2 separate regions of the Homo sapiens genome follow, and region 2 is linked to region 1. A link means that fine-mapping ties the variant in region 1 to the expression of a gene that starts in the linked region. Tissue or cell type: tibial nerve. Region 1 holds a variant in brackets; the other region holds the start of a gene. All regions are shown on one strand. Distances are from middle to middle. Region 1 has its middle 34 kb from the start of FMN2. Region 2 holds the start of FMN2 (formin 2).

Region 1 (16,214 bases):
AGCCCAGGAGTTTGAGGCTGCAGTAAGCCATGATAGCACTACTGCTCTTCACTCTTGGCAACAAAGCAAGATACTGTCTAAAAAAAGGAAAAAAAAAGTAACCTTAAGCAAAGGAGAGTTAGCAAGGGAAACTGAGGTGAATGCAGCCGAAGGAATACCAGGAGGCAAAACAGAAAACCTGAGCGGGCAAAGAAAAGAAGAATGGGGCCAATGCATAGAATAAATAAATAATATGCAATTCTTATAATGTAATAGAGAACATAAAAAATTAAAGAAGCTACTCTATGCAGTGAAAAATTAGCATCTTTGCATCCTAGTGCACAAAGCATTAAAACTATCAGAACGATTTAATCTGTAAAACTTGAAGCTGCAAATGTGGATATCCAAGGGTACTTACCTAGTGTAATTGTTGAGAAGACTCAGAAGCTGCTGGGACCTGAAGTATCCCTAGAAATAATACATTCCTTTTATATGTTGAAAATAGTATTATCTGTTAGAAAAAAAGGATAGAAACTTTTTCCTGAAGTTGGTTACCATGATGTTCACATACAAAAACTAGACTGAAACATTCATTTGCACTCAAGGAAAAATGTTTCACAGGCATTGGTTGAAGTGATATTTTTCCTGATCTGTCACAAACCAGAAACTCCCAGTGTACTGAGATTGTTAATATGATGTAAATTAAGCACTTAATGGATTACGTTTCAGTGATAATCATGTAAAACCATTGATTTAGTCCAGGAATTGAGGGATAATTTGAAGCATTATGTTCCAGCAATCACATCAATAACGACCAAAGTCTGGGGGACAGTGGCATGTACATTTCTGTTAAAGACAGTGTCTAGGCCAGGTGCAGTGACTCACACCTGTAATCCCAGCACTTTGGGAGGCCGAGGTGGGAGGATCACCTGAGGTCAGGAGTTCCAGACCAGCCTGGCCAACATGACAAAACTCCATCTCTACTAATAATACAAAAAAATTAGCCAGGCATGCTGTCGCATACCTGTACTCACAGCTACTCAGGAAGCTGAGACACAAGGATCGCATGAACCCGGGCAGCAGAGGTTGCAATGAACCAAGATGGCACCACTGCACTCCAGCCTGGGCAATAGAGCAAGATTCCGTCTCAATTTAAAAAAAAAAAAAAAAAGACAGTGTCTAACTGAAGAACATTATGTCCTCTGCTTTTCCTACTCATCCAGCGGATTCACAGTTTTTGGTTTGAACACTGAAGAATAGAAATACTTCTATAGCACCAGAGTATCGGCAAATCCTCATCTTTTCTTTAGTAATGTGTCAAGCATTTGCAAGCTGGTGAAGTGGATTACGAGGCTGCAATCACACCACTGGAATCTAATGAATAACACTTTTCAAAATCTTAAGTTCTTTTTAAAAAAAACAGGTTTAGCGAGATATAACTTATATACTATATAATTCACCCATTTAAAGTGTACAATTCAATAGCTTTTATTATATTCATAAAGTTGTGCAACCACCACCACAACCAATTTTAGAACTTTTTTTTTTTTTTGAGACAGAATTTCGCTCTTGTTGCCCAGGCTGGAGTGCAATGGTGCAATCTTGGCTCACTGCAACCTCTGCCTCCCGGGTTCAAGCGATTCTCCTGCCTCAGCCTCCCAAGTAGCTGGGATTACAGGTGTGCACCACCACGCTCAGCTAATTTTTTGTATTTAGTAGAGACGGGGTTTCATCATGTTGGTCTCCAACTCCTGACCTCAGGTGATCCACCTGCCTCAGCCTCCCAAAGTGCTAGGCTTACAGGCATGAGTCACCATACCCGGCCAATTTTAGAACATTTTTATCACCCCAGAATAAACCTGTACACATTAGCCGTCACTCCCCATTTCCCCACAACCTCTCCCAGACCCTGGCAACCACCCATCTACTTTCTGCTGTGTGGATTTCCCTATTCTGTACGTTTTATAGAAATGGAGTCACAGAATATGTGGAACCTTCTTGGTTTTTTTTGTTTGTTTGTTTGTTTTTTCTTGAGATGGAGTCTCGCTCTGTTTCCCAGGCTGGAGTGCAGTGGTGGGATCTCAGCTAATGGCAACCTTCGCTTTCCAGGTTCAAGCGATTCTCCTTCCTCAGCTTCCTGAGTAGCTGGGACTACAAGCGTGTGCCACCACTCCCGGCTAATTTTTGTATTTTTAGTAGAGACGGGGTTTCACTGTGTTGGCCAGGCTGGTCTCGAACTCCTGACCTGAGGTGACCCAACCCGCCTCAGCCTCCCGAAGTGTTGTTTTAAGTGTAGGGGTAGGGAAACAATTGTCTGCTTTTCTATTATTGTAAGTTTCTTTTCTTATAATATTTAGAATCCTTTTGTCCCTAAATAGTATCTTTGTAATTCTTATCACAGGTGGAAACAGAAAAGAGGATGGTCCCAAGTTTTCCATGGTGTTTTCCACCTGGTGTCTTGGTACAAATGCTCTGTGCTGACACTGTTGGGGATGGGAGGGCATGTGAAATCCATCTGCTCTTGTCAGGCAGCCAATGCTAACTGTGGGGTCCCAGCAAACTAAGTCACCCATCAAAGTAATCTGGAGTACAGAAGTCAGAAATCTAAGGCTAAACTGAAAGTCCATGAGAAAGAGTTGGGAGTGAAACATTCGAGTAATTAGTTCAAACATCAAATAGAAGTAGACAATAGCAAGATTGAAGTCAGGGTATGGTGTCTAGTGTTTAAAGTTAGACAGAAATCAGATCAGAATATGAGTAGGTAAGAAACAAGCACTTAATGTAAATGACGTTAGTGAAAGGCCTTTAATATTAGAAACATCGGGCAGGACGTGGTGTCTCATGCTTGTAATCCCAGCACCATGGGAGACGGAGGTGGAGGCGGGTGGATCACTTGAGGTCAGGAGTTTGAGACCAGCTTGGCCAACATGGTGAAACCCCATCTCTACTAAAAATACACACCACAAAAAAATTAGCTAGGCATGGCGGCACATACCTGTAGTCCCAGTTACTTGGGCGGGGAGGCTGAGGCAGGAGAATCACTTGAATCCAGGAGGCGGAGGTTGCAGTGAGCCCAGATCAAGCCACTGCTCTCCAGCCTGGGCCACAGAGCAAGACTCCATCCCCCTCCCCGCTCCAAAAAAATTCAGAACATAGGTAGTGCATTGAAAGACACTGAATGACCAATTATTCTTTGCGCTGATTCTTTGCGTTCTTGGAGGATGGGTAGACATTGTTGATTGCCTTCAAAATAGCCATTTCCTCCTTTCCCTGCATCACTCCGACATCCCCTCCTCCATTCTGGCTAAGTATAGGACTGAAAATGCTGTGTATTCTATTTCCATTCCTTCTTCCAGTTTGTGCTAAGAGTGAGATCTAACTGTGGCCCATGTGACCTGGTGGGAGATTGCTGGGAGACTTATTAGATTGGGTTTTCTCCCTAGTTTAAAAAAAAAAAAAAAAGATCTTATATAATTAACCTTTGTTTTGTAAGACATTGTCTTTGTCTGATTCCTGAAGTGTAACAACTGTCTTGAAACCAGGAAGGGACAAGTCAAATGACAGCAAAATTAGAATATAGAATACACCCAAGTCCCTGATACCAATATGGCACTTCTGATTTAAACAACCATAGGATGCCTTATCTTCACTTTTAAAAATGTGAGTTTTAACTACTTTCAATAACGTTCAATAATGTACTCTGATCCTTTTTTTTTTTTTTTGAGATGAAGTTTCACTCTTGTTGCCTGGGCTGGAGTGCAATGGCATGATCTCGGCTCACTGCAACCTCCGCCTCCCAGGTTCAAGCGATTCTCCCGCCTCAGCCTCCTGAGTAGCTGGGATTACACTCAGATACTTTTTATAGGAAGCATCCTAAAATTATATGCTGAAACTAATATACTGCTTTCAGAAGATCGTTACTTATGAATCTTAATTACAATGGAAAGGACACAGTTGTACTTTTAGTGTGATGGAATTACCATCACAATTAACCATTGGAATTACCATCCAATTACCACTTGGGTTTCTGATCTGGAACATCCTTCTAATGAATGTTGCATTTGGTCAATATTCCAAGAGCTAAAGATAGTATTGTGTACTAAGAGATCTTAAGAGCTGAGGGCGACACGCAGTGTTACTTGGCAGTGAATGCTTCCTCAGAAACAGTGAAATCATGGAAACGTCAGGGGCGTTTGAACTAGAGCAACTCCATCTTGAATAGGGGCTGGGGAAAATAAGGCTGAGGCCTCCTGCGCTGCATTCCCAGAGGCATTCTTAGTCACAGGATGAGATAGGTCAGCACAAGATACAGGTCACAAAAGCCCTGCTGATAAAACAAGACACAGTAAAGAAGCCAGCCAAAACCCACCAAAGCCAAGACGGCAATAAAAGTGACCTCTGATCATCCTCATTGCTCATTATACACTAATTATAATGCATCAGCATGCTCAAAGACACTCCCACCAGTGCCATGACTATTTACAAATGTCATGGCAACGTCCAGAAGTTACCCTATATGGTCTAAAAGGAGGAGGAACTCTCAGTTCCAGGAATTGCCTGCCCTTTCCCGGAAAACTCATGAATAATCCAACCCTTGTTTAGCATAAGCATATCATCAATAAATAACTATAAGTATATTCACTCAAGCCGCCCATGCCACTGCTCTGCCTATGGAGAAGCGATTCTTTATTCCTTTACTTTCCTAGTAAACTTTCTTTCACTTTGCTCTGTGGACTCGCCCAGAATTCTTTCTTGCGTGAGGTTCAAAAACCACCCCTTGGGGTCTGAATCGGAACCCCTTTTGGATAACAGAAACATCAAGGCACAGTGCCCAAAATGGGCAGTATATGAAGGACCATATAAGTTCCTCGAGGTTGGGAGGGGGTGCAGGGAAGGAGGTTGATTTTCTTTGAGATATGGGTTATACACCTGGCTTCTATCTGTAGTGCTTTGGTTTGATTTATAGCTGAGCTCATTGACCAGGACCTTGTCTATATGACATCTCAATTTCCCTTAATCTATTTCAGTAAAGATTCAAAGGCAAGACTTGGCTGGAAACCAAAACACATCATTTTGATTAGGGTTTTGGGTTCAGCAAAGGCTACAAGCAGGGCCTGTAACTCCTTATGATCGACACATTGTGATATTGCCCAGAAGCAGTTTTGATGGCTCTTGAACCAGAACTCTGCTTTCCTTTTTAAATTAAAATGATACAGATGATACAGTTTTGCTGCCTGGTGGTCCTGCCCCTTTTGGAAAGTGATCAGGTCTTATACGGAGCAACTCTACTATACTCCTGTCTTCATCCCCTATCTCCACATTAAGGAAGATCAAGAATCAGAAAGGGTGTATACATTCCCTTCAAGCAATTACCTCTATCTTCAAGCAAGAGTCTGCTCAGCAAAAGCCTCTTCGGACCACCCCAGCTAACTGCAGGGTACCTCTACCTAAGCCCAGAACGAACTACTGGACTGTCAATGGTCCTGGCCACAACTTTGCTCCTGTAGGAAAGTGAGAAAATGGAAAGTCAGATCCTGAGGCCAGAGCTGCAAATAACACAGTGTGGGATGGATAAGTAGCCAAATTACCATAAGGCAAGTTGCTAAGTGCTGTGATAGATGATCAAAGAGAAGAAAGTAGGGAACCCCAGAGAAGATGGAGATGGGAGATAATTTTCAAGTCTACATTTAGGAAGGAATATTAGAGCTGATAGTAAATTCCACAGGAGGTTGCCCTGGGGTGTAGGGATAGGGAAGGCTTTTTAAGCAAGGGAAGCCAGGAGTACACATAAAATCAGGAATACCAGCATGTATGCATTGTACTTAGGACACAGTGAGTACCTTAGATAAAGACAGTATACTTTATACTCAAGTGTACTTTTATATTCAGGAATGGAAACAGAAAGATGGTGGTGGGGAATGCAGAAAGGTAAGATGGAAAGATAAATTGAAGATCTATTATGAAGGCTTTGACTGGCATACCCTGGAAAATGGCCTGGAAACTATTGAATGTTTCTAATCTGGTCAAATAATTAGGTCCCTCCCAGATCACATGCCTACAGAGGCTGGACACTTAATGTAAATTATGAAGAGGCCCCCAAGTGGAGATGGTGATGAATTATGCCCGTTTAAAAGGGTTTGTGCTACCCAGCTGCAGGGGATTTTTACCATTTGAAAAGACAAACCAATGTCCCCAGATCTTTAAATTGTTAAAAAGAAGTCAGGAAGCCAACTACACCAAACTCCCAATTTCTAAATGTTGACAGCTAATTTAAAACCAAAGTGAGTACATTCTGTTGGCCAAACAACACATTTCTATAAGCTGGATTTGTCTGGATCTGAAAGCTTCTGGATTTTCACTCAGCCCTAAACAATGCTGCAAAGTAGATAAATTATGTGTGTGTGTGTGTGTGAGAGAGAGAGAAAGAGAGACAGAGAGAGAAAGAGAGAGGGAGAGAGAGGGAGAGTCCATTTTTATGGTTTCATCACGTTGAATTTTTAAATGAGATTTGAAAACCCAACGTATTTAAAGGGTCAATTAATGGCAACACAGCTCAGGAGACAGGCTGCACATAATGGCTCTGTGGTTAGAAGTCTAGCCCTAGGACTGAAACCGATTTATTCAGTGACCTTGAATAAGGTCATTAACCATGAGTTGGCTTCAGCATCTGTCTCTAACACATCCAAGGTAGCAACTGCCAAGCTGCTAGGAGAAGAGCTCACTGAAGAGATTTAAACACTTAGCTCCCTCCCAAAAACGTGTTTTCAAGAACTCACAATCATCTCTGTCATTTGTTTCATTTAAACAGTTCTCATGAATTTTGCCAAGATTATCAGCACACTATAATAACGTCTGAAAACGACACTTATTAAACACTATCAGCTGAATGTAAGCTTTCACAGCATTGTAAAACAAACAAACAAAAAAACCCAATACTTGTTTTATAAATTATGACATACGTTTTCCAGGAAAAAATATCTCTATTTGTTTCCAGTCAATATATTTTTTTCAACCCCTTAGGCTCTTAAACTAACTCCCTTTTAAAAGCACAGTAGAAAAATAAAAATGTATTCAATATTTTCAGCCTCGTTCTTCATAAGCAAATAAATTGAGAGGAGAACTAATATTTACTTCTCTTCTTATCCACTCAGGTGGCTGCATTTGAGATTTTGAATATGAATTATCTATATATATATCCGATCCTGCAGTCAAAGCGATGAAGAACGCTCATTTGCATTATAATTTTTAGCAAGACATATTTAGTTAACTATAATGGACTTCTTTGTATTTTGATACCAAAGCATATTTAATATTCCCATGTTGTATTTGTCAAACCTAAATGTGTGCTGCACAGATATGCAAAATAATTATAATTTTAACCGTTTCAGTTCAACTAATATATTTCATATATTCCAAAATTACTACATAGCATATGCTACCATATTTCCTCTATTTATTTGTATACAATTCTTCTTCTCTCTTGATATGGTTTTTCAGTCTTTAGTAACGCCTTCAATCTCATCCAACTTATTACTGGCATTAAAAAATAATCCTTGTGCTTCTCATTTGCAAACTTTGTGATATTTCTTCAACATTATAAATTAATTGACTGCTCTTCTTAAACACCTTTAGCATTGGCAAGAAGCAGTGGCTCATGCCCGTAATGACAGCGCTTTGGGAGGTCAAGGCCAGGGGATCACTTGAGGCTAGGAGTTCAAGACCAGCCTGGGCAATAAGCAAGACACTTGTTTTTACAAAAACTCAAATCGTTAGCCAGGTGTGGTAGCATGTGCCTATAGTTCTACCTACTCAGGAGGCTGAGGCAGGAAGATTGCTTGAACCCAAGAGCTCAAGGCTGCAGTGAGCTGTGACATTGCACTCTAGCCTCGGTGACAGTGTCTCTTAGAAGAAAGAATACACAGCCTTGATCTTACAAAATCAATGTACACATTTCATTTTTGTGCATTGTAAGTATGGTGACATATTCCCCACTTCACTCCCACTGCTTCCCCCTACCCCTTCCTCTTTAGCGAGAGACCACCTGCTCCAACAATTTCACCCATGTTTTGCTACATTCTTATTTGCATTCTTTTCTTGGCATCTCCTGCGTCATATAGAGCTGATTCTATTGGCATCTGAGTGCATTTCTCACCCTCTACCCTCCTACATGCAGCTCGCCGGCTACTCTGTCCAAGCCCATCTTCTGACTGCGCTCTTTGTCTTCCTCA[C/T]CCACTCCCAAACTCCATCCCTTGTTTTTTATTGACCTTTATGCTCGGAGCTGCCTCCCACGAACATTCATAAACCTCCTTACCACAGTCTCCCAAATCATTTCCCCAGAAGGCTTTCTAGTCTTGTAAGCGTTCCTATTTGTGTCGGCATGCTATACTCTTAGCTGTTTCTGCTCATGTACAGCAATTCTCTTTTCTTCCTTGAAAGATTTCATCTGAAACCTTATTATTTTCTGAATTCCTTTTTTGAACAGGAATAGTCAGGGAATTCACAGCAATATAGGTTAAATAAACACACCTAACATTTACTTTGAAGTAAATAAGGCCAACATGAGCGGGAGTCATACTCTTGCCTGATGGTCAAAGGGAACAGTGATAGCAGAACCAAAATTGTTCCTCGCATGTGGGAAATTACATCTTTGTTATGGTATTTTCATAAGCACTACTTGCCGGGTGCAGTGGCTCACGCCTGTAATTCCAACGCTTTGGGAGGCCAAGGCAGGAGGATTGCTTGAGCCCAGGAGTTTAAGATCAGCCTGGGCATCATAGTGAGACCCCTTCTCCACACACACACACACACACACACACACACACAAACACATTAAAAATTAGCTGGGCATGGTGGCACATGCCTGTAGTCCCAGCTACTTGAGAGGCCAAGGTGGAATGACTGCTGATCACTCCACTGAACTCCAGCCTGAGCCAGACTTTGTCTCAAAAATAAATAAATAAATAGTAACAGTAAGCGCTACTATCAGGAAATTTGAACTTTTTTATAAAAGTGCCAGGTCAACATTCTGAAAGTCTTTTTAAAACTGTGTTTAAGCATAACGCTTCCTGATTCTTAGACTCCTTCAGTTGTTTCGCTTTGTATGGTATATGAGACTTGAGGGTCCAGGCACGGTGGCTCACGCCTGTAATCCCAGCACTTTGGGAGGCCAAGGTGGGTGGATCGCCTGAGGTCAGGAGTTTGAGACCAGCCTGACCAACATGGTAAAGCCCCGTCTCTACTACAAATACAAAAATTAGCCGGGCGTGGTGGCCCGTGCCTGTAGTCCCAGCTACTCGGGAGGCTGAGGCAGGAGAATCACTCGAACCTGGTAGGCGGAGGTTGCAGTGAACAAAGATCGCGCCACTGCACTCCAGCCTGGGTGACAGAGCAAGATTCTGTCTCAAAAGAAAAAAAAAAGACTTGAAAGAAATTGTATGTCTTTAAATCTTTTTGAAAGCAGACACTATTATATATTTTTCAACTAGAGCAACTAGCAAACTAGCTTTTGGAGGACCTCTTTGTCATCCACTTGTTGCAGGCTTCTATACAGTTTCCAAAATCTGAAATTCTGTATCTGTCTTTGTTCATTGTGATCAGATATAAACTAAAGGCAAAAATAACAGCAATCAATAGTAATTATAAGCTTTGGACTCCTTGTAAATGAAGGTCAGAGGACAGACTGCCAAACTCCTCTTGGGAATGATGGCTCCCAGTCTGGGAAAAGACCGACACTAAATAAATTGTTCCCTGCCTTGCCCAAGGGCTCAAAAAGTGCCTTTTGTCCTGAACTGTAAAAGTAGTGAGGAGAAAATGTGGAGGTTTAAGCTCCTCATTCAGTCTCCTCCAACCATTCCATCAAGCGGGACATCCTCTCTCTCTAAACTTCTATTGCACTTAGATTTTTGGCCACTGAACTTTCTTGGGGTCAACCATATCGTCTTTTCTCTCTCTGTGTATTTGTTTTCCTGCTACCTTCTTATATAGAATTGCTGGAGGTAGGGGCCATAAGAATATATTAGCTTTTCTTGTCAGTTCACCATTAGTACAATGCAAATGGGAGATATATCAATTCATTTAAGGCATACCCACTATGCGCCAGGCACTGCGTGGGGTCCTAGAGATATAATAGTAAATAAGACACTGCCCTATCCTCAGAGGTATGAAATCTAGAGGAGAGAGACAGGCAAGCAAATAGGCAAACACTTTGAAATATGTGTAAAGGCCACCATAATACTTCCTTTTTGCCCTCTGAAGGTTCACTGAAAATCAGCTGACAAAAGTCGAATTAATAGGAGAGGCCAGGCGTGGTGGCTCATGCCTGTAATACCAGCCTGGACAACATGGCAAGACCCCATCTCTACAAAAAAAAAGTTACAAAATTTAGCTGGGCAGGCTGGGTGTGGCGGCTCACGCCTGTAATTCCAGCACTTTGGAGGCCAAGGCAGGTGGATCACGAGGTCAGGAGTTGGAGACCAGCCTGACCAACATGGCGAAACCCTGTCTTTACAAAATATACAAAAAGTAGCTGGGCATGGTGGCACGTGCCTGTAATCCCAGCTACTCAGGAGGCTAAGGCAGGAGAATTGCTTGAACCTGGGAAGCAGAGGTTGCAGTGTGCTGAGATCGTGCCACTGCACTCCAGCCTGGGTGACAGAGTGAGACTCAGTCTCAAAAAAAAAAAAAAAAATTTAGCTGGACATGGTGGTGCATGCCTGTGGTCCCAGCTACTCAAGTGGCTGAGGTGGGAGGATCACCCAGGCCCTGGAGGCCAAGGCTACAGTGAACTGTGATTGTGCCATTGCACTCCAGCCTGGGCAATAGAGTGAGACCCTGTCTCAAAAAAAAAAAAAAAAAAAAAAAAACAGAGAGAGAGAAATGGTATACAAATTTATTAGCATGCCACAAGAGGGAAATCCCCATTATGCAGTGGCGATAGATGCTTATTTACCCTTCTTCTTAGGTGAAAGGGAGATGGGGAAGTATGGATGATTTTAATGGGGTAGTAAGTGATTTTTTCGGAGAATTTAATGGGCTTGAATCACATACAATGGTCTGGAACATTGTCTGTGGGGCCCGCAGAGCAGACAATGGTTCGTGACGAAAATGTGTCCAGATGTGTTGACAGACTTCAGTCATTCTTCCAGCAATGAGTTCAGTGACGAAAACTCAGGGAAGGGACGAGAGGTCCAGACTTTAGGTGGATAAGGAGAACAACCTCATCCTTTGGGAGAGACAGAGGACTGAGAGACAGACCTGGGGCCAGAGGGGAACAGGGAAGATCAGATAGACTTTGAGACTTCTTCTTCAGTTCAACATGTCAAAGTGCTATATTTTGGGGTATTGGTTGGGTATTGGTTTCTGAGCCACAACATGTGATAAATGTGATCATTGAAGCCAAGGTTAGGGGCTCTGAGAGCATATTCGAGAAATTTGAAGGGTCCCGGATGAGCTCTTGGATGAAGTGACTTCTAACCTGCAATCTGAAGTTGGGTAGAACTTAGCACGGAATGCAAGGGTGGCGGAGGGGAGCAGAAAAGTTTTCCAGACAGCTTTAATGGCAACCCCAGAGACGAGAAGAAGTAGACAGCACATTAAAAACAAACAAACAAACAAAAAAACAGTAAATAAATCCGTCAGTATATTTGGAGTTTCTAATGGCGGTGTGGATTGGAGGTGGGGAAAGAGGAACTGTGCTATGCTGAAATGAACGTCTAAAGGTGAGCAGAGCCTTAGAGACAAAAGTTTTCATGAGAGACAGAATAAACAAACAGACAATGGCCAGACCCTGGATGACAACTGACCCACAACCTCTGAAGCAACCAGTCCAGGATGTCAACCAAACCACAACCTCTGTAGCATTGACTCAGAACATTCAGGGCTGTTGAATGGTCAATGACTGCCAGCTTCCCTCCCTATTCCCTCTCTCCTTGACCCCATCCAACTCAGGACCAACCAGAGAAAGCTAAACACAAGAGGACTTCAGAAAGTTCATGGAAAATTGAAATAAAAGATTTAAAAAATATATAAATTGTATTTCTCAATGTATGTTTCATCAAGTTTAAGACACATTTGTAAGTGATGATACCAACCATTTAGTCCATCCCTAAAGAACTAAGGGTCCTAGAAGTTTAACCGTATCAATGCAATCTTTGTTACATTATTAACTGAAGAAGAATGAATGCCCTTTAAATATGTTTTTAAAATTAGCAAACATAAAGAAGTCAGAGGGAGCCAAATCAGGACTGGAAGGTGGATGTCTAAAGATTTCCCATTGAAACTGTGGCAAAATTGCCCTTGTTTGATGAGAAGAAGTGAGCATTGGCATCGTCATGGTGGAGAAGGACTCTCTGGTGAAGCTTTCTTGGGAATTTTTCTGCTAAAGCTTTGGCTAACTTTCTCAAAACATGCTTATAATAAGCAGATGTTATCATTCTTTGGACCTCCATGAAGTCAATAAGCAAAATGCCTGGAGCATCCCAAAAAACTGTTGCCATGACCTTTGTGCTTGACTGGTTTTGCTTTTTTATTTATTTTATTTTTTAAGAAATTATATAACAGAGACAGGGTCTCATTACGTTGCCCAGGCTGGTCTTTAGCTCCTGGGCTCAAGCAATCTTCCCACCTTGGCCTTCCTAGTAGCTGGGACTATAGGCGTGAGCCACCACTCCCAGCCCCTGCTTTTGCTTTGACTGGGTCACTACCACTGCTGGATATCCATTGCTTTGATGGTGCCTTGTCTTCAGGATCATATCGGTAAAGCCGTGTTTCATCTCCTGTTACAATTCTTTGAGGAGATGCTTTAGGATCTTGATTTCACTTGTTTAACGTTTCAGTTGAAAGCTCTGTTCTTGTCTGCAGCTGATCTGGGCACAAAGGCTTCGGCAACGTTGAGTGAAAAGTTTGCTCAAATTTAATTTTCCGTCAGAATTGTGAAGCTGAACCAATTGAGATGTCCATGGTCTTGGCTATTTTTTTCTGATGTCAACCATCAGGGCATGAACAAGATAAATTCTTTCCTCACAAACTGATGTGGATGGTCTGCTGCTGTGGCCTTCAGCTCCGATGTTGTCTCCTCGCTTCTTCTTTTTTTTTTCTTTTTTTGAGACGGAGTCTCGCTCTGTCACCAGGCTGGAGTGCAGTGGCACCATCTCAGCTCGCTGCAACCTCCGCCTCCCGGGTTCAAGGGATTCTCCTGCCTCAGCCTCCCAAGTAGCTGGGACTACAGGCGCATGTCACCACACACAGTTAATTTTTGTATTTTTAGTAGAGACGGGGTTTCACCATGTTGGCCAGGCTGGTCTTGATCTTTTGACCCTGTGATCCACCCAGCTCAGCCTCCCAAAGCGCTGGGATTACAGGTGTGAGCCACCACGCCCGGCCGCCTCCTTGCTTCTTAAAATGAGTTATCCATTTGTAAACTGCTGATTTCTTTGGTGCATTGTCCCCGTAAACTTTTCATAAAGCATCAGTTTTTCCCACTCAACACTTTTCCCAGTTTTCCCACTCAACACTTAATGTTTGCTCTTGCTTCAATTTTAGCAGAATTCATGTGGCTCTGATAGAGGCTCTTTTCAAACTGATGCCTTATCCTTAGTGTGTCCAACCAGCCCCCGTTCAGACATGTTACAAAAAGTTACTATGAGTTTATTTTGGTGAAAGCAATTTTTGAAATCCATAGTTTTTTCATAGTACACATTTTCCATGAACTTTGAAGGACCCTGTATGCTCCTGAAACCAGGCACGTAAGATGCCCCATGTCATCAGCCTCCCCAGTTCCCCAGTCAGAGCACTCTGGAAGCCTTCTTTTTTTTTTTTTTTTTTTTTTTTTTTTTCCAGTATAAAGCTTTCCCACTCCTCTGCTTACCTTTGAGTCTCTGCCAGAGGGAAGTGATGGTGGCTGAGTCCCTTGTCAGGGCAGGCTCTGAATCAATACCTTCTGTTTGTTCTTATTTGGGTATTCTTTGTTTATTTCCACATACAATTGCCAACACTACCACCAATATTTATAATTGTCTCTTATTTGGCACACCAGAGGTGTTATACCCTGAAGGCAAGGCAACATATTAAGATTTAGGTTGGGTGAGAATGATGCTTTCTTTTCTAAAGAAAGAAAAGAGCAATTATGAAAGTGGGAGGGGAGGGGAGTAGGAAAGAAAAGGAGAATATTTTGACCTTGAAGCATATTCTCAGATTAATTTTAGAAAATAATATCTATGGAAGTTTAGGATCAAGAAAATAATTCCTGATGAACCTTCCCAGGAGCCCTTTTTGTTGTTGTTGTTTCTTTTGTTTTTTTTGGTTATTTTCTTGAGGCAGGGTCTTGCTCTCTTACCTAGGCTGGAGTACAGTGACACAAACACGACTCATTGCAGCCTTGACCTCCTGGGCTCAAGTGATCCTACTGCCTCAGCCTCCCATGTAGTTGGAACCACAGGTGCATGCCACCATGACCAGCTAATTTTTTTATTTTTTAAAAATTATAAATTTTGGTCTTGAACTCCTGGGCTCCTCAAATTCCTGGGCTCAAGTGCCTTGGCCTCCCAAAGTGCTAGGATTACAGACATGAGCCACCATGCTGGCCCACACTCTCTTTATAGCTACCTAGTCCATTATTACATATTCTCAGCATGGCGTTTTTCACTGTCTGATATTTCCCCTTCTCTTCCTCCCTCCTTCCCTCCTTATTTCTCTTTTGACCTCTTCTCAAGTAGAATGTCAACTCCATGAGACCTATGACAATTTTATCTGAAAACCTAGGGCAGTGCTTTGTCCATAGTTTGACACTGAATATATATTTGCTGAATAAGTAAATGAGAATAGAGAAAATGTCAAGAAGTTGAGGACATTCTCGTCTGATGGTTTGTAATTGCTCTGTGAAGTAGGAGGCCAAGTAGGAGACTAAAAGTAGAAATAGTGGAGTGGGCAAGTTGAAGAGGGTGGAATTTGGGGTGGTGAGAATGGAAGAAAGTGATGACAAAGAGAACACAGATTAATTGTTGGACAGCATTTAGGCCCTGCCACTCTAAAAATACAATGATTGCATGAAAGAATGAATGAATAAGGGCATGTCATTCTGCTGCTACTGTTCTGAAAAGCGCTTCTGAGAAATTGAGCTAAGCTTAATCACACAGTATGTGTGGTAGACAGAAAAATTACCTTCAAAGATATCCATATCCTAACCCCTAGAATCTGTGAACCTGTTGCCTCACATGACAAAAGGGACTTTTATAGAAATGTTTAAAATTTAAGGATTTTGAGGTGGGAAGTTTATCTTGGATAGTCCAGGTAGACTCGATATAATCAGAAGGGTCTTTATTAGAGAACAATGGAAAGGAAACTCAGAGTTAGAGGAGATCTGAAGATGGAAGCAGTGGGCAGAGTGAAGGAAGAAAGGTGATACAAGCAAGGAATGCAGGTGGCCTTTGGAATACACAAACGGTAAGGAAATCAGTTCTTCCCTAGAGCCCCAAGAAAGAACACAGTCTTGTTGACCCCTTGATTTTAGGTCTTCTGACCTCCAGAACTGTAAGGTAATACAGTTGTGTGGTGACTTACAGCAGCAATAAGAAATTAATATACCTTCAGTTCTATGCAGAACGTGCTTCTCAAACCATAATCTGAGACCTTCTTAAAATGTAGCCTCTGATTCAGTAGGTTTGATGTGGTGAGACCTGAGATTCTGCATATTTAACAAGCTCCCAGGTGAGGCCAGCCCTTTTGGGCTACAAACACTTGAAGTAGAATAAATCTAGAAGGCACCATCATGACAAATGAGAGAAATAGCTGTTATGGCCATACAGCATGTCTTTCATTTGTGTAGTTTTTCCAAACTTATAAATGAATATTGCATTTTATAAACACAGAAATGCTATAAAGCAGATACTAATATCTTTCCTATCACTGTCAAGAGAAAGGATATTCAGAAAGGGGTAAGGGAGGAGACCACACCTCATATTGTCTTATGCCCAATTTCTGCCTCCAAAGAAAGAAGAAGTAAAAACTAAAAGGGAGAAATGAAATCCACAGGCAGACAGCCCGGCAACGCGCCCTGGGCCTGGTAGTTAAAGATGGACCCCTGACCTAATCGGTTATGTTATCTATAGATTACAGACATTGTATGGAAAAGCACTGTGAAAATCCCTGTCCTGTTCTGTTCAGTTCTGATTACCGGTGCATGCAGCCCCCAGTCACGTACCCTCTGCTTGCTCAATCGATCACGACCCTGTCACGCAGAC
Region 2 (16,214 bases), 33 kb after region 1:
AAGTATATATATATAAAATATATACATATAAAGTATATATATATAAAGTATATACATATAAAGTATATATATATAAAGTATATACATATAAAGTATATATATATAAAGTATATATATATAAAGTATATATATATAAAGTATATATATATAAAGTATATATATATAAAGTATATATATATAAAGTATATATATAAAGCATATATATAAAGTATATATATAAAAGTATATACATATAAAAGTATATATACACACACACACACACACACACACACACACACTTTGAATTCTAAGCATCAGCACTTTCTCTTAGAATGTAAGAGCCAATGCAGTTATCACCATATGGAAAAAGGCCAGAAAAAGGTGAAGTAGAAAATACAAATGTTTCAGTTAGGGGCAATGGCTTGCTTGCTCACTATAAAACAAATGCCTTCATCCTTTGCACTTCTGCACAGGCATTAGGGGAAACTTGTTCTGATCAGAAAGGGAGTTTTAAACTCACATCTCTCACTGCAGATCTTTCCAGGGAACTGCCCTCAGATAATGTAGACTTCACTAGGAAATGGCTGGTTGTTGGGTTTTTGTGCAATGCAAAGCGGTACCTTCAAAGAGGAGCTTTGCATCAGCTTCATTTTCCTCAGAAGAGCAGGAGAAGGCTAGTGGGAAATTTGATTTCACACATCTTTATTGGAGCTTCATTTGTATAAAGGTGATCACTAGGAAGGGAATTTTTTTTTTTTGAGAGGGAGTCTCGTTCTGTCGTCTAGGCTGGAGTGCAATGGCGTGATCTCGGCTCACTGCAACCTCCACCTCTTGGGTTCAAGCAATTCTCCTGCCTCAGCCTCCCAAGCAGCTGGGATTACAGGCGCCCACCACTACTCCAGGCTGATTTTTGTACTTTTAGTAAAGACAGGGTTTCGCCATGGCTGGTCTCGAACTCAGCCTCCCAAAGTGTTGGTTTTACAGGCGTGAGCCACCCATGCCCGGCCAGACAATTTTACCATCCATAACATAGCTAGTGTTTCTCGTAGTGGTATAGAAACATCTGTCTGCCATGCTGGCTGGCTCACACCTATAATCCCAGCGCTTTGGGCAGCTGTGGCGGGCAGATGTCAAGAGTTTGAGACCAGCCTGGCCAACATGGCAAAACCCGGTCTCTACTAAAAATAGAAAAATTAGCTAGGTGTGGAGGTGTGCGCCTGTAATCCCAGCTACTCATGAGGCTGAGGCAGGAGAATCGCTAAAACCCAGGAGGCAGAGGTTGCAGGGAGCCAATATCGTGCCACTGCACTCCAGCCTGGGAGACAGAGCCAGACTCCGTCTCAAAACAAACAAACAAACAAACAAACAAAATCTGTCACCAGAGTCTAAGGGAAAGGTGATTGTATTACTTGCTTACTGGGATTAATTTATCAGTACCTATGACAACACTTTAAATCTTTCACTCAGAGATTAGGAGGGGAGGATAAGAAAACTAATTTGGAAGTCTGCCTCTCCTTGCTCAGACAACACATGAAAGGTTGCTGCAACTCTTTAGTGCTTTAGTGCTCATCTAGTCTTTCAGGCACTTCCTAGCCAAGGAAACATCTTCTAGCTGTTTCTTCCTCTGCTCCACTAAAGCTCCTGGGACTTCATTTATGGCAGATAAAAAACAATTAAATATAAGATTTTTAAATGACAATAAAAATAAAAAGAGCAATTGAGCAATTGGGTTGTCTTTTTTACAATTTAAAATTTCCTGTCTTTAGACATCCTAGAGTTGTTGATTCCGGGATTCCTGGGGAGAAAGGCTCAGGGTCGGCTAACTTGCCTTCATCGAGGCAATAGTTTTATGGGCCTCAGGCAACAATGGCTTAGAGAGCGTCCAACTAATCAATCTCAGCTGTAGGGATGGAAGTGGGTGGGTGGGTACAGCTCAAGCCCTTGGTACAAAGCAGCCCGCTAGTCTCTAAGATATGTTATCTTAACTCCCACAAAGTGCCAACTCCCTTCAATATTTAAAGAACCTGAGGCCAAGCACAGTGGCTCACACCTGTAATCTCAGCACTTTGGGAGGCCGAGGCAGGTGGATCACCCGAGGTCAGGAGTTCGAGACCAGCCTAGCCAAAATGATGAAATACCATCTCTACTAAAAATAAATACAAAAGCTAGCCAAGTGTGATGGAGGGGGTGCCTATAATCCCAGCTATTCAGGAGGCTGAGGCAGGAGAATCACTTGAACCCAGCGGGCAGAGCTTGCAGTGAGCCGAGATCATGCCACTTCACTCCAGCCTCGGTGACAGAGTGAAACTCCGTCTCCAAAACAAAACAAAACAAAATAACTTGAAAGAGGGCTTAGAGGCCGGGCACGGTGGCTCACGCCTGGGTGGCTCCTAGCACTTTGGGAGGCCAAGGTGGGAGGATCACGAGGTCAGGAGTTCGAGACCAGTGTGGCCAATATAGTGAAACCCTGTCTCTACTAAAAATACAAAAAAAAAAAATCAGCCAGGCGTGGTGGTGTGTGCCTGTAATCCCAGCTACACGGGAGGCTGAGGCAGGAGAATTGCATGAACCCGGGAGGCAGAGGTTGCAGTGAGCCAAGATGGCGCCACTGCACTCCAGTCTGGGTGACAGAACGAGACTCCGTCTCAAAAAAAAAAAAATAGAAAGAGGGCTTCAAAAGCATTGCTTGAAGCCTGACCTATTTGTTTTACTCCTGATTTTGTTCGTGATTCATTGAGAATATTTGAGTTCTAAGCGCTTTGCCAGCAGGTGATGGTGGTGATAAAGCACACTTGCTTCCCGCCCTCAGGGAACTTGCATTGTAATGGGTAAGAGCCAAGACAGACAATGAACAAGTCAATAATCAAACATATAATTACAATTGTGATCAAGAATTTGAAGGTTAAGACAGATGCTCTAAGACAGGGAAATAACCTACTTTAAAGGAGGCCTCTTGGAGAAGCTGAAATTCATGATAAAAATGGAGGTGAAAGGCAGGGCGCGGTGGCTCACGCCTGTAATCCCAGCACTTTGGGAGGCCGAGGTAGGCGGCTCACGAGGTCAGGAGGAGGTCAGGAGTTTGAGACCAGGCTGACCAACGTGGTAAAATCCCATCTCTACTAAAAATACAAAAATTAGCCGGGCGTGGTGGCGGGTGCCTGTAATCCCAGCTACTCGGGAGGCTGGGGCAGGAGAATCGCTTGAATCTGGGAGGCAGAGGTTGCAGTGAGCCAAGATCACGCCACTGCACTCCAGCCTGGGCGACAGGGTGAGACTCCATCTCAAAAAATAAAAATAAAAATAAATGAAAAGGAGGTGAGAAGGATTAAGGCAAGCAAAATAGATAAGAAAAATATTTGGGCACAGAAAAAAGTGAGAATCAAAGCCGGGCACAGTGGCAGAAATGGTATGTCTTCACTTAGAAAGGGTATATATGTCTAGAAATTCAATACCAGAATTCTTTAGCTTCATAGGAATTTCTCTGTGACATAAGAACAAAATAAATATTTTTATGTCTTCTTTTGTTTCTCGGTTGCCAATTATCCATAAACGTTTTGGCTAATACGCGTTGAATGCGAAAGTATGCCTATATAATGAAGAGGGAATTTTTCAGAGGAAGCTAGTGAGTTTTCCAGAGGTTAGGAGACAATGGCTTTTATGTTTCATTTGTAGCAGGGAGGAACTTAAGTGACCTAGAATTTTTTACCTTTAAATTTTTTCCAGTGTAGAAACAAACTTGTAGTGCATTCTGTATTGCTTGGGGAGAGGAATATTTCACTTTTTCTCTGTTGTATAAACACTTTAAGTTCTGCATTGGTGATAAAATGAATAATGGTGGTACAAATGGAAAGCTATATAACTAATTGTTTGTCATACACATAATCATCACTGCAAAATGAGCTCTGGGAATTCCATTCTAGTGACCAGGAAATCTCTGGTATGAGCAAGGACTTTTTATAATGTTACCAAGTATGTTGGGAATTGAAATATTTATATAGATTGTGTAGTTTTTAGAACTTAGAGTGCGTTAGAGAAGAGTTAATTCTCTATTTAAGATATTTGGTACTGTAGATAGACTATTTAAAATCTGATTTGTTCCATTAGGTTCTCCCTTTAAGTTCCTGATTTAATTCAGTTAACTGGTTCTCCCTTTAAGTTCCTGATTTAATTCAGTTAACTGGTTCTCCCTTTAAGTTCCTGATTTAATTCAGTTAACTGAGAAATGTAATTTTAATTTCTTATTTATTTCACTCCTTCAGTAAACATTTATTGACTGTCAGCTGTGAGAGTCTTCATGCTAAAGCAAGTGTCTGCACCACGGGATTACTGATATTATGGGCTGAATCATTCTTGCTTATGGGGCGCGGTGGTCGGGGGAGGCTGTTGAGCAGCATCCTTGATGCCAGTAACATTATCCCCCTACCCCACTGTGACAACCAAAAATGTCTCCAGACAGTGTCATATGTTCCCTGGGGAGCAAAATCATCACCCCAGTCCAGAAGCATTGGTGATAATGGGAAGGAGCAGATGAGAGTTGGAGGTGGGGGTGGGAAGGAGGCAAGAGAAGTGGCACTTGGGGTGGGACACATGAATGCATTTAAGAGACATTACGAAAAAAGAATAGAGAAGTCTTCGTGACTGGTAAATTATAGGGACTGGGGAAGAGGAAGGAGTAAGCAACAACACTGGTTTGGGAAACTGGAGGGATTGTAGCGCTCTTACTCAAAGAAAAAACAAAAGAAGAACAGATATGAAAGAAAATATGAGTTCAGTTGCAGAGACATTGGATTTGACTGGAGGCATGGTGTTCTCTAGGAAGTAGGTTCAGGAGTCGAGTGTGTTGGAGTGAAGTCAGGACTGAGAGGTGGATTTTGGAGGGCAAAAGATTAGTAATTGACACTAGGGCAAAAAAGTGTCATTCACCTGCTAGAGAAATGGATGAGTTGGATAATTAAGATGCAAACTAATTGTTCTATTAGAGATTCTAAAGCATTCCACCAAGGTTAAGCAGAAATAAAAACTAACAAAACAGAGCAAAACACCAAGTATCAGAAACATTTCAGTGTATCTTATAGTCAATTAAGAGGGTAAATGAGGAGGAAGAGAGCTGGAAGAAGAGAGAAAAGGAAATGAAATGGAATTCTGACAGACAGGTAATCGTGAAGGAGAGGAAGATTCATTTAGTATCTTTTTTATTTTTATTTCTTTGAGACAGAATCTCACTCTGTCACCCAGGTTGGAGTACAGTGGTGCGATCTCCGCTCACTGCAAGCTCTGCTTCCCAGGTTCAAGCGATTCTCCTGCCTCAGCCTCCCTAGTAGCTGGGACTACAGGTGCCCGCCACCACGCGAGGCTAATTTTTTGTACTTTTAGTAGAGACGGGGTTTCACCGTGTTAGCCAGGATGGTCTCGATCTCCTGACCTTGTGATCTGCCCGCTTCGGCCTCCCAAAGTGCTGGGATTACAGGTGTGAGCCACCACGCCTGGCCATTTAGTATTTATTAATTGCTATCAACCATTACATAATTTAATTTCAAAAAATCTGGGAAATGCATGTATTCTTTTTTTTTTTTTTGAGATGGAGTCTTGCTCTGTCGCCCAGGCTGGAGTGCAGTGGCATGATCTTGGCTCACTGGAAAGCTCTGCCTCCATGGTTCATGCCATTCTCCTGCCGCAGCCTCCGGAGAAGCTGGGACTACAGGCGCCCGCCACCACGCCCGGCTAGTTTTTTTTTTGTATTTTTAGTAGAGACGGGGTTTCACCGTGTTAGCCAGGATGGTCTCGATCTCCTGACCTTGTGATCCGCCCGCCTCGGCCTCCCAAAGTGCTGGGATTACAGGCGTGAGCCACCGTGCCCAGCCACGCATCTATTCTTGTAACCCACTTTCTTCTTCAACATTTGAGCATGAAAAGTTTCAAACAGTCCAGGTGTAGTAGCTTATGCCTATAATCCTAGCAATTTGGGAGGCAAAGGCAGGAGGATCTCCCGAGCCCAGGAGTTTAAGCCCAGCCTGGGCAACAAAGGGAAACCTCATCTCCACAAAACAAATTGAAAAATTGGCTGGGTATGGTGGTAAATGCCTGTAGTCCTGGCTATTCAGGAGGCTGAGGTGGGAGGATCACTTGAGCCCAGGAGCTCTAGGCTGCATGAGCTGTGATCATATTACAGCAGTCTGTGACAGAATGAGACCGTCTCAAAAAAAAGAGAAAGTTTCAAACATACAGTAAAGTTGAAGGCAGCTCCCAGTGAACACCCATATATCTACCATGTAAATTATATAATTAACATTTTATTATATTTGTTTTATCACATATCTGTCCATGCATCTGTTAAAGTATCTTATTTTTTGATGCAGTTTAGAATAAGTTGCCAAAATCAGTACACTTAAGCCAACTACATCAGCATACATATTCTCAGCTAGAGTTCAATATTTGTTTAGAGTTTTCTAACCTACTTTTACTAATTGAATTTTTAAAGCCCATATCCAATTTCCTTTGTGGGAAAATGGGTGGTACTTTATTTTATAAAAATAGTTTTTGTGACCATTTTGGAATGCTAACACTGAAGACTTTTATTGATAATTACACTAGAATTACTCTAGATACATCAATATAGAGGCTGGTCACTTTTGCTGTTTCTCGTCTGTGTCTTGCTACCAGGATGTGGCCAGGCGTGAGGTAATATCTCTAATTATCTGTTAAATCTAGTTTTGCAACCACAGATATGATATTCTTACCTGATCAAATGGAATTAAGGTTAGGCCATGTTTCAGGCATCCTTAGGAATACTAAATAGCTATTAAATAACAAGAACCCTTTGGCAAAGCTTTGTAGTTTGCCTTTATGATATCCTTACCGGTCCCCCAAGAGTAAACTATGCAGTGTTTTATGTTATAAAAAAATTGTGGTCTAAATTTGCAGGTTCCAGTATTCTTTCTGCTGCTATGTGATCTTGGACAAATCTCTTAGCCTCTCTGAGCCTGAGCTCATGCTTCAATTATCCTTGAGTTAAGAGCACCTATGTGTATTTGATACCCACACTTGTGAATTTCAAATGAGCCTTTGCATGCAATAGAGATTTGTCAGCTGTGACCTGCTGCACAACTGTCACTGTGAAAAAAAATCATCAATTCTTTCCCTCCCTCCTTCTTTCCCTTCTTTTGTCTTCTGAACGTCTAGAATATAGCACAGAAGAAAACAATAAGGAAATCAGTAGTTCAGAATCAAAGACGTTCTGCTAAAGAAAGAGCAAAAATCAAGATTCAAAGTACCTCAGCACTCAAAGAAGCAGAAAATTCTAATAGCTGCAGGCAAATTGTGCCCTCTGAGGAGCCTAGATTCTAGAAAAAAGGAGAGAGCAGTCTTGTGAAAGAGGTGAAACAAAGGCTTTTCATGTACTCCGGAATTGCTTGGAGACTGGGATATAACCCTGGCAAAGTTATTAAAGTTGATTTCTCTAAAGCATTTACTCGAAAGGGCCACCTAAGGATAACTGGCTAACTGCCCTTAAATTACATTTATTTTTAAAAACATAGTTTGAAAAAGGTTAGTAACCAAAGACTTACAAGACCAACCTTTTTTAAAAAAGAATTTTAAAGGCTGGTTCATAATATGCAAAGGAAGACTACACATTTGCTTGCTACATTTAAGTTGCACAGTATAATATATAGCTTTTCTCCCTCCTCTGGGTTATTTTGAAAATATTAATAAGTTGGATGTCTATTCCATATTTTCAAAGTGGTTATCAATGACTTTTACTTAAATACTTGTAAAACTTATTAATGCCACTTTAATCTCAGTTTACTGCTTAAAGCTTTAGATATCCATATTTTTTTAAAAAAACTATTCTTAAAAAATAGGTAACTAAATTTAATAAATAATGAAAACAATGACAAAATATTCAATGAGGAAAAATGTTTATCCCCATATTGTGGCCAGAACGTTAAGAAACTTTTACAGGACGAAGTCTGCCTGGAAGGGTTTGCTTGGGAAAGTGGTAGTTTATAGCATAACATCTGATTTTGTGTGTTTGTGCCAAGGGTGTTTCCTTTCTGTCTTTTTCCTTTTTATAGGCAGCCACAATAGTGACATGTTTAATATTGATGAGTTTGACCTCCTGGGAGTTATCGTATATGCACCCTTTTTGAATACAAATGCTGTTTAATTTATATGGTAAACACATAGAATTTGGAGACTAGCATTTTAATCAACACTAATCTCAGTATTTTCTACTTCTCCTACCTCTCCTTCTGTCAACAACAACAAAAAAATCACAAACCAATTTTATAAATGACAGCTAATGTCCTCTCCTGGAGAAGCAGGGTCTGTGTGTGAAACATAAAAGCAGCACCATGTGTAGTAACCTCTCCTAAACCATATGCTCAAGCACATTAACAGTGTTCAATTAGATGATCAATTATTCAAGAAACAGAACAATCCATTCATTCAACAAATATTTATTGAACAGCCATGCAGAGGCAGACAGGGGGTTGTGTATGTGGCTGTGACCCGATGGCACCTCTAAACTGGAATTGGGCTTCAGTTTTTCTCCGTGTAAAAATTTCTTCTTTTTTATTTAACTTTTCTCTTGGCAGGTCCAGCAGCTTTGAAGATCAGAGTGCATCTTCCAGCTGACGATCTCTTCGGTCGGGGACAATGCATTCGATTCGCACGGTGGAGATTAAAGTCCCCGAGATAGAGGAAACGTTTTTCGCGCCCAGGTTCAGCGAGGAGCCGCGCGGGGGCAGAGGGGGCGGCGGCGGCGGGCGGGGAGCCAGGCCCGAGCTGCGTTCTGCGCAGCCATTGGTGGGCGCCGCGCTCTGCACTGAGCATGTTCGCGCCCCGCCGGCCCCTAGCCGCAGCCGCAGCCGCAGCGACGGCAGCCACGGGAGCCGCCGCGCATTATGCAAAGCGGCGGCAGATGCGAGCGGGGCCAGCCGGGCGCGCGTCGGCCTCCCCTCCCAGCGGCTCCCCCCGCCGCCGCCTGACTCTCCCGGGAGACTCCCTAGGCCCGGACCTGGGGCCGAGGAGGGCCGGGATGGCCTGAGTGCCCGCGGCGCGGCGGCGCAGCAGCGGGATTGCACCATGGGGAACCAGGATGGGAAGCTGAAGAGGAGCGCAGGTGATGCTTTGCACGAAGGCGGCGGTGGCGCCGAGGATGCGCTGGGGCCCAGGGATGTGGAAGCCACAAAGAAGGGGAGCGGGGGCAAGAAGGCGCTAGGCAAGCACGGCAAGGGGGGAGGGGGCGGCGGCGGCGGCGGGGAGTCGGGCAAGAAGAAGAGCAAGTCCGACTCCAGAGCCTCGGTGTTTTCCAACCTGCGGATCAGGAAGAATCTGTCCAAGGGGAAAGGCGCCGGCGGCTCCCGCGAAGATGTACTGGATTCCCAGGCCCTGCAGACCGGGGAGCTGGACAGCGCTCACTCCCTGCTCACCAAGACTCCAGACCTCAGCCTCTCGGCGGACGAGGCCGGCCTGTCGGATACCGAGTGTGCGGACCCTTTTGAGGTGACCGGTCCAGGGGGTCCTGGGCCTGCCGAGGCTAGGGTCGGGGGCCGGCCGATCGCCGAGGATGTGGAAACTGCAGCAGGGGCGCAGGATGGACAAAGGACCAGCTCGGGCTCGGACACGGACATCTATAGCTTCCATTCGGCTACGGAGCAAGAGGATTTGCTTTCAGACATCCAGCAGGCGATCCGCCTGCAGCAGCAGCAGCAGCAGCAGCTCCAGCTCCAGCTCCAGCAACAGCAGCAGCAGCAGCAGCTCCAGGGCGCCGAGGAGCCTGCAGCGCCCCCCACTGCCGTCTCCCCTCAGCCCGGGGCCTTCCTGGGCCTGGACCGGTTCCTGCTGGGGCCGAGCGGCGGGGCTGGGGAGGCCCCGGGCAGTCCGGACACCGAGCAGGCGCTGTCCGCGCTCTCCGACCTGCCCGAGAGCCTGGCCGCCGAGCCCCGGGAGCCCCAGCAACCGCCGTCCCCCGGCGGCCTCCCGGTCTCCGAGGCGCCCAGTCTCCCGGCAGCGCAACCCGCGGCCAAAGACTCGCCCTCCTCCACGGCTTTCCCATTTCCCGAGGCCGGGCCGGGGGAGGAAGCGGCCGGAGCCCCCGTGCGAGGGGCTGGGGACACGGATGAGGAGGGTGAGGAGGATGCTTTTGAGGATGCGCCCCGGGGCTCTCCGGGGGAGGAGTGGGCCCCGGAGGTGGGAGAGGACGCCCCGCAGAGGCTGGGGGAAGAGCCGGAGGAGGAGGCGCAAGGACCTGACGCCCCCGCGGCCGCTTCCCTGCCCGGCAGCCCCGCGCCTAGCCAGCGCTGTTTCAAGCCCTACCCGCTCATCACCCCCTGCTACATCAAGACCACCACCCGGCAGCTCAGCTCGCCCAATCACTCCCCGTCTCAGTCCCCTAATCAGAGCCCCAGGATCAAGAGGCGGCCGGAACCCTCCCTGAGCCGAGGGTCCAGAACTGCCCTGGCCTCCGTAGCCGCCCCGGCCAAGAAGCACCGGGCCGACGGCGGCCTTGCGGCCGGCCTGAGCCGCTCGGCTGACTGGACGGAGGAGCTAGGCGCCCGCACGCCCCGGGTGGGAGGCTCCGCGCACCTGCTGGAGCGCGGGGTGGCGAGTGACAGCGGCGGTGGGGTGTCCCCAGCACTGGCCGCCAAGGCGTCTGGGGCCCCCGCGGCTGCGGATGGCTTCCAGAACGTGTTCACAGGTGAGCGCGCCCTGCTGCTGGCCTCCGGGTCTCAAGTCGCCTGTCAGTCAGGGCCTTCCCCTGCCACCCGCCCTCCCTGGGCTCTGGAAGGCGGTGACCTGGTAGTGGCACATCTCTTCTCCGTAGGGAATCCTTTTCCGCCCAGCGAGCTCACCCCCCACGGTGAAATGACTTGGACATACTTGTTGGTTTTCTGTGTTCTTACAAGATCTTAAAGGGAACAACTTAGTTGTGTCTGTCCTAAGTTGCTCTGCCCATTTCACCAAAATACCTGCTATTCACAAAGTTTCGGGTCACGCCAGGGAGATAAACTCCTTTTTCGTCTCGTTAGCTAAACCATCATTCTTCTCTTTCATTTTTCATCACCACAGCATTAAAAAGAAAAAAAATTGTTCATGGTTCTTTCGCAAGAGTCGGTTTTGGAGGCACAAATCATTTATTCCGGTACGATCCAAAGGCAGTCTCTGACCGCTCTCATAGCTGTGTGTATTTGTCCACGTTTGGTATGTATGTGATATGTAGTTTCTATCTTGCAGCAGTCTGGGTTCCGCTGCTTAGTGAAGTTAAGCGGTCACTCACTGCTGTTTGCTGCTGCAAGAAAATCCGATACATGCTATTAGAAAATTAATAAATAAATAGAATAGTAGGGATAATTTTCATTCAGTTTCATGGTCCAGCCCAGAACAGCCTGTAGTTTGGAGACAGTGAAGGTGGAAAGGTCAAAAGCACGTCTAGTCCAACTGGTACCTCCCCTCCCTAGCATATGTTATAGACTCATACCCAGGGCGGCATAAAGCACAGCCAGAGTATGTTTGCTCTGGTCAGTGTCAAGCAGTCCAATGAGTTTATCCTAGCTTACAGGCTTACAGGGCCCAAGGCCTTACCTTAAGAGCCCAACATGTTTACCTAACCTCTATTCTTAATTATTAAATGAAATAGAGTGTTAGAATTTAATGAATCGAAAAATATGAAAAGTTACATGACTACTGATAGGTTTATGATAAATATTTGAAGGATTAAACATTTCAAATGCAATCTGAAAATTTTAAAATCTTATGTTCTATTATTTTAATAAATACATTATCTGTAAAACATTGCTTAGATGAAATTTCTCGGCACAGACAGCGACTTCTTAGTTGACTAAATGCTGGTAATATTGGGGTAGCTACTTTTATTGACCACATTTTAATTTTCATCTGTGGGCCACCTTTTATTTTGCCCTTATAGGGTCTTACCCTTAAAAGTAGCTTCTTCCATTCATTTCACATACTCTTATTTTTCTTCTTTTCCACCTTCTCTTTATTGTGTAGATTGTTAAAAAGAATGTTTGTAGTTTTATACCCACTAGATAAATTGTAAAAAAACAAAAACAAAATGCAAAACAAATAAAAAAGAAAGATCACTTTTGATAGAAGAAGATTGGAAAGTTTTTGCATTAATTTTTGTGAATTTAATGTTGGTAAGAAATCACATATTTTCTCTTTATCTAAGTGACATTCACGTATATAGTTTTTGAAAAGTGAAAATAATTCACCATAATGATTATCAATCATTAATATTAATGATAGCTATTCCTACTAGCATAAGACTTTGGAAATTTATTTATTTCATTCATTTAGCAAATATATATATGTATATACATTTGTAAGCATATATGTGCATACACACACACACACACACACACACATTGAGCAGCCACATTGTGCTAGGCAGTATTCTAAATAGTAGCACACTGTGCTAGGCAGTATTCTAGATGTAGGTGATACATAGACCATTAAATCATGATTTTGCCTTTCTAAGGCTCGCTGACTAGTGAGGAGGAGACATGACATAAGTGCAGTGCACAGAAATATCTGTATAGATATAGACATGCAAATCACTGCTGGGAACATCACGGATGCAGTGGCTTATCTGCTTGGTGGCAAGGGGTGAGGGAAGAGGACTTGAGAGAGGAGGATTGAACAGAGTCCTGGAAGATCACAAGACCCTAAATAGGTTGAATGTTTGTTTTCCTTTAAAAAAACAAGTGTCTTCTTGGAACTTGCATTTTAGTTTAATTTGCTAAGTATTCCCAAATTTGAAATTTGGGACTCTTAAAAGAGTCCTGTATAGGAACCACCTGGGTTTTGTTGACCTCTCCAGGTGATTTGTTTTTTAAATTGTGCAAAGTAAAATTGCAGAGCTAGTCGTTTTTATAAGGACATCACCTATTTTGTATTTGATGGTTGGATACAGCTGGTTGGTAATCAGCAAATATATTTTTGTGTAGCAGCTTCCGTATGTTTATGTCATTCACTCAGCATTGTTCAGGAAAAGAGGATCAGTAGGTTTTACCTAACTTTGTAACTGGTGGGAAAATGTAGATAGAGAAAGAGGTGAAATAACTTTCTCAAGGTCACACTGTGATTCATTCAGAGGCAGATCCAGAAATAGAAACTGAGTCAATGAATCAAGTCTAATGTCATTATTATTTCTGTTTGGATATACAATGTTTTAAGGCCATATAGAGAGTAAAAACTGTTTATAAAAAATGTGATCAGATTTAGGGCCTTTCTTTAATTAGATTTTCCAGTTCCTGTTTTTAATAAGGTGTCCTCCTTTAATGGTTGAACATCTGGCCTTCCTTGAGCTGGATGAAGGGTGATTGTTGGCCAGAGTGAACCAGATTTTCTCTAAGCAGCTCTCATGGAAACTGTTCTTATGGTGGTCAAATGAATCCAGATTGACACAGGCCCTTGTGTCTCAGCTGTCAACTCTTCATGTCATCTGCCACTACGTTTGCTTCTTTACTCTCCTCTGCTATTTTTTTACGGGTGTCTTGGAAATTACCAGAGGCTTGGGGAACACTGGCATTGTCCTTAGGGAAATTTCTTTTTGGCCTTAATTTTGCATGTATTTGGATCAATTAATTGCCAGCTGCCTTTGAAGCAGGTGATCATTATATCTATAAGCTTCCATAAGCATCTTTTATTTTTAAACCATAGAATGAGGGTTGTCAGCATTACAGGAAGAAACAGATGTTTTTCGCTTTTTACCGCCTTCCAAATGTAGGGAGAAAATACAAGTGAAAAGGGATTTCTATGGCACATGTCTGTGTCTCTTTGGTAGATCTAAAAACATTTAGCAATGAGGGAGACCAAACTTTATCTTGTTTTAGCTATTAAGAAACTGATGATGCCTTAGGCCATTGCATTTAAGTATTTCATAATTAATGTGTTTGAAATACATCTTTTTCAGTGTTTAGTAGAAAAAATGGCGTCTGAAATTCGGGAGGTTCCTTTACATATTAAGTATAACAGAAGCTTGGTACTGGAGTTTTGCAGTTAATTAAAGTTTAGATATCCAACGTGTTAAATTTGTGATGCTAAATCGCTTTTGATAGGAATCTTTCCCAAGTCAATTATGTGCTTATCTTTTTTTTTAAACACATGGAATAAAAGTTTAATCTGTTTTAAAGGGCTTAATGTCATCTTCAGGCACATCATTGTTACATCTTATAAAAACATTAGTGATGTCCTCAACAGCTATTGAAGTGTGTGGGCTGTTGGCTTCAGTCTGTAGTTTCTGAGTTTTTGTGTCTGTGTAGTTTCTTGATTGTTTTCTTGCTGCCAGCTATTTATTGTTATAGCTGCCTTTTTTTTTTTTTTTTGAGACAGAGTCTCGCTCTGTTGCCCAGGCTGGAGTGCAGTGGCACGACTTCTGCTCACTGCAAGCTCCGCCTCCTGAGTTCACGCCATTCTCCTGCCTCAGCCTCCTGAGTAGCTGGGACTACAGGCGCCCACCACCATGCCCAGCTAATTTTTTGTATTTTTAGTACAGACGGGGTTTCACCGTGTTAGCCAGGATGGTCTTGATCTCCTGACCTCGTGATCCGCCCGCCTCGGCCGCCCAAAGTGCTGGGATTACAGGCGTGAGCCACCGCGCCCGGCTATAGCTGTCTTTAGTCTCTTTGCTCCTGTCCCTCAATTTTTTTGTAATTTGACTTTTCTGATCAATTTGCAATTGGCTTACAATTCCTGTAATTATGATATTGGTTACACTTATTGTACTTCTAAGTGCCAGACTCTGTTGGTGCATTACATAACTATCTGTAATCCTTAACAACAGTCTTGAGGTGTAGCTGTTTATCCTCATTTTTCGAATGAAAAAACCCAGGCTCAGACAGTAAAGTAACTTCTTGTCTAAGGGCATTAAGCTAGTAAGTGGCCCATCCAGGATATGTCCTTAGAAAACCAAATCTGTTGTTAATATGTATAAGATGAAACCAAGTAGATCATTGAGCTTTTGGAGGACTAGCTAATTAATAAAGTGCATAGGCTCTAGAACTTGGATTGTGCAACTCTGATTTTGGCCTTTCTAAAGGTTATCTTGAATTTTTTTTTTTTTTTTTTTTTGGAGACAGATTTCACTCTTGTCGCCAAGGCTGGAATGAAGTGGCGTGATCTTGGCTCACTGCAACCTCCGCCCACTGGGTTCAAGCAATTCTCCTGCCTCAGCTTCCAGAGTAGCTGGGATTATAGGCGCCCATGACCACACCCAGCTAATTTTTGTATTTTTAGTAGAGACAGGATTTCACCATGTAGGCCAGGCTGGTCTTGAACTCCTGACCTCAGGTGTTCTATCTGCCTTGGCCTCCCCAAGTGCTAGGAGGCCTATCTTGATTTTTATATCAGTAGAGGGAAGAACCCACTCTAGGAGTACACATTTTCTCATACGGCTTGGTAAATTGCTACATTGGATTTTTTTAAGGCCAGGAGTAGTTTGATTTCCAGCAGAGCCCCTGACAGAGTATAGATGTCCAGTTAATGTCTGACGAATGAAGGTCAGAATCTGCCTGATACGTATAAAATGTCTTATTATAAAAGGAAAGGGGTTTATATGAATGCTATGCTTTCCCCTAAATACTGCCTTACTGGGTTCCATATATCAGAGAAGAATTTGGCGATGTAAGCGGGGACCAGAACACTGATCTTCAATCATTTTAGATGGGTCTGAAACATCCTTTCTCATGGTTTCTTTAGGCCTGTGGTTTGGATTGAAGTCAAGTGCACCAGTAGCTTCAGGGATGGGTTTTAATGACTGCTTTATGAGTTGAGGATGGGCCTAGTTTTAAGAGCTTTAGGCGTTTGGATATAAGCCATGCGTATTTGAAATGGAGCAGGTACTTTTAGTGCTTTTCCTTCTGATTCTTCTGAAAAGATACAGAAAATATACAGTTGGATGAAGGTAGCAGTAGTTATTCTAACTACGTTTATTCTAGGTATATTTGCAATCCTAGTTTTGCTGTTTAGCTAAGTGAGTCTCCAGTAATTTTTCCTCATATCTATGAAGGTAGAAGAATAATTTCAAATTAATACTATTAAGATGAAATGAAATAGCATACATAAAGCCCCTACAATTCTGCCTGGTACATGAGAGGCACTTAACTGGGGCTATTTGCTCTCCTGACTGGATTTATTATCTTAAAAAAAAAGTCATTGTTCAAAGTGATCAGAGCCAAATTTGTTAAAACAACCCTGAAATTGTATACAAAACT

What was found.
Region 2: it holds the start of FMN2, and the variant in region 1 is fine-mapped to the expression of FMN2 in tibial nerve (GTEx, PIP above 0.99).

The regions. Positions count from the first base shown.
Region 1 is chr1:240,050,053-240,066,266 of GRCh38, forward strand. No RefSeq gene overlaps it. Among named protein-coding and RNA genes, the nearest start is that of FMN2, 34 kb to the right of the region's middle. The variant C/T (reference allele first, on the strand shown) is at 8,208.
Region 2 is chr1:240,083,047-240,099,260 of GRCh38, forward strand. It overlaps FMN2 (formin 2), which reads left to right and starts at 8,837. Exons shown (of 18, transcript NM_020066.5): 1 at 8,837-10,678. The coding sequence starts at 9,064.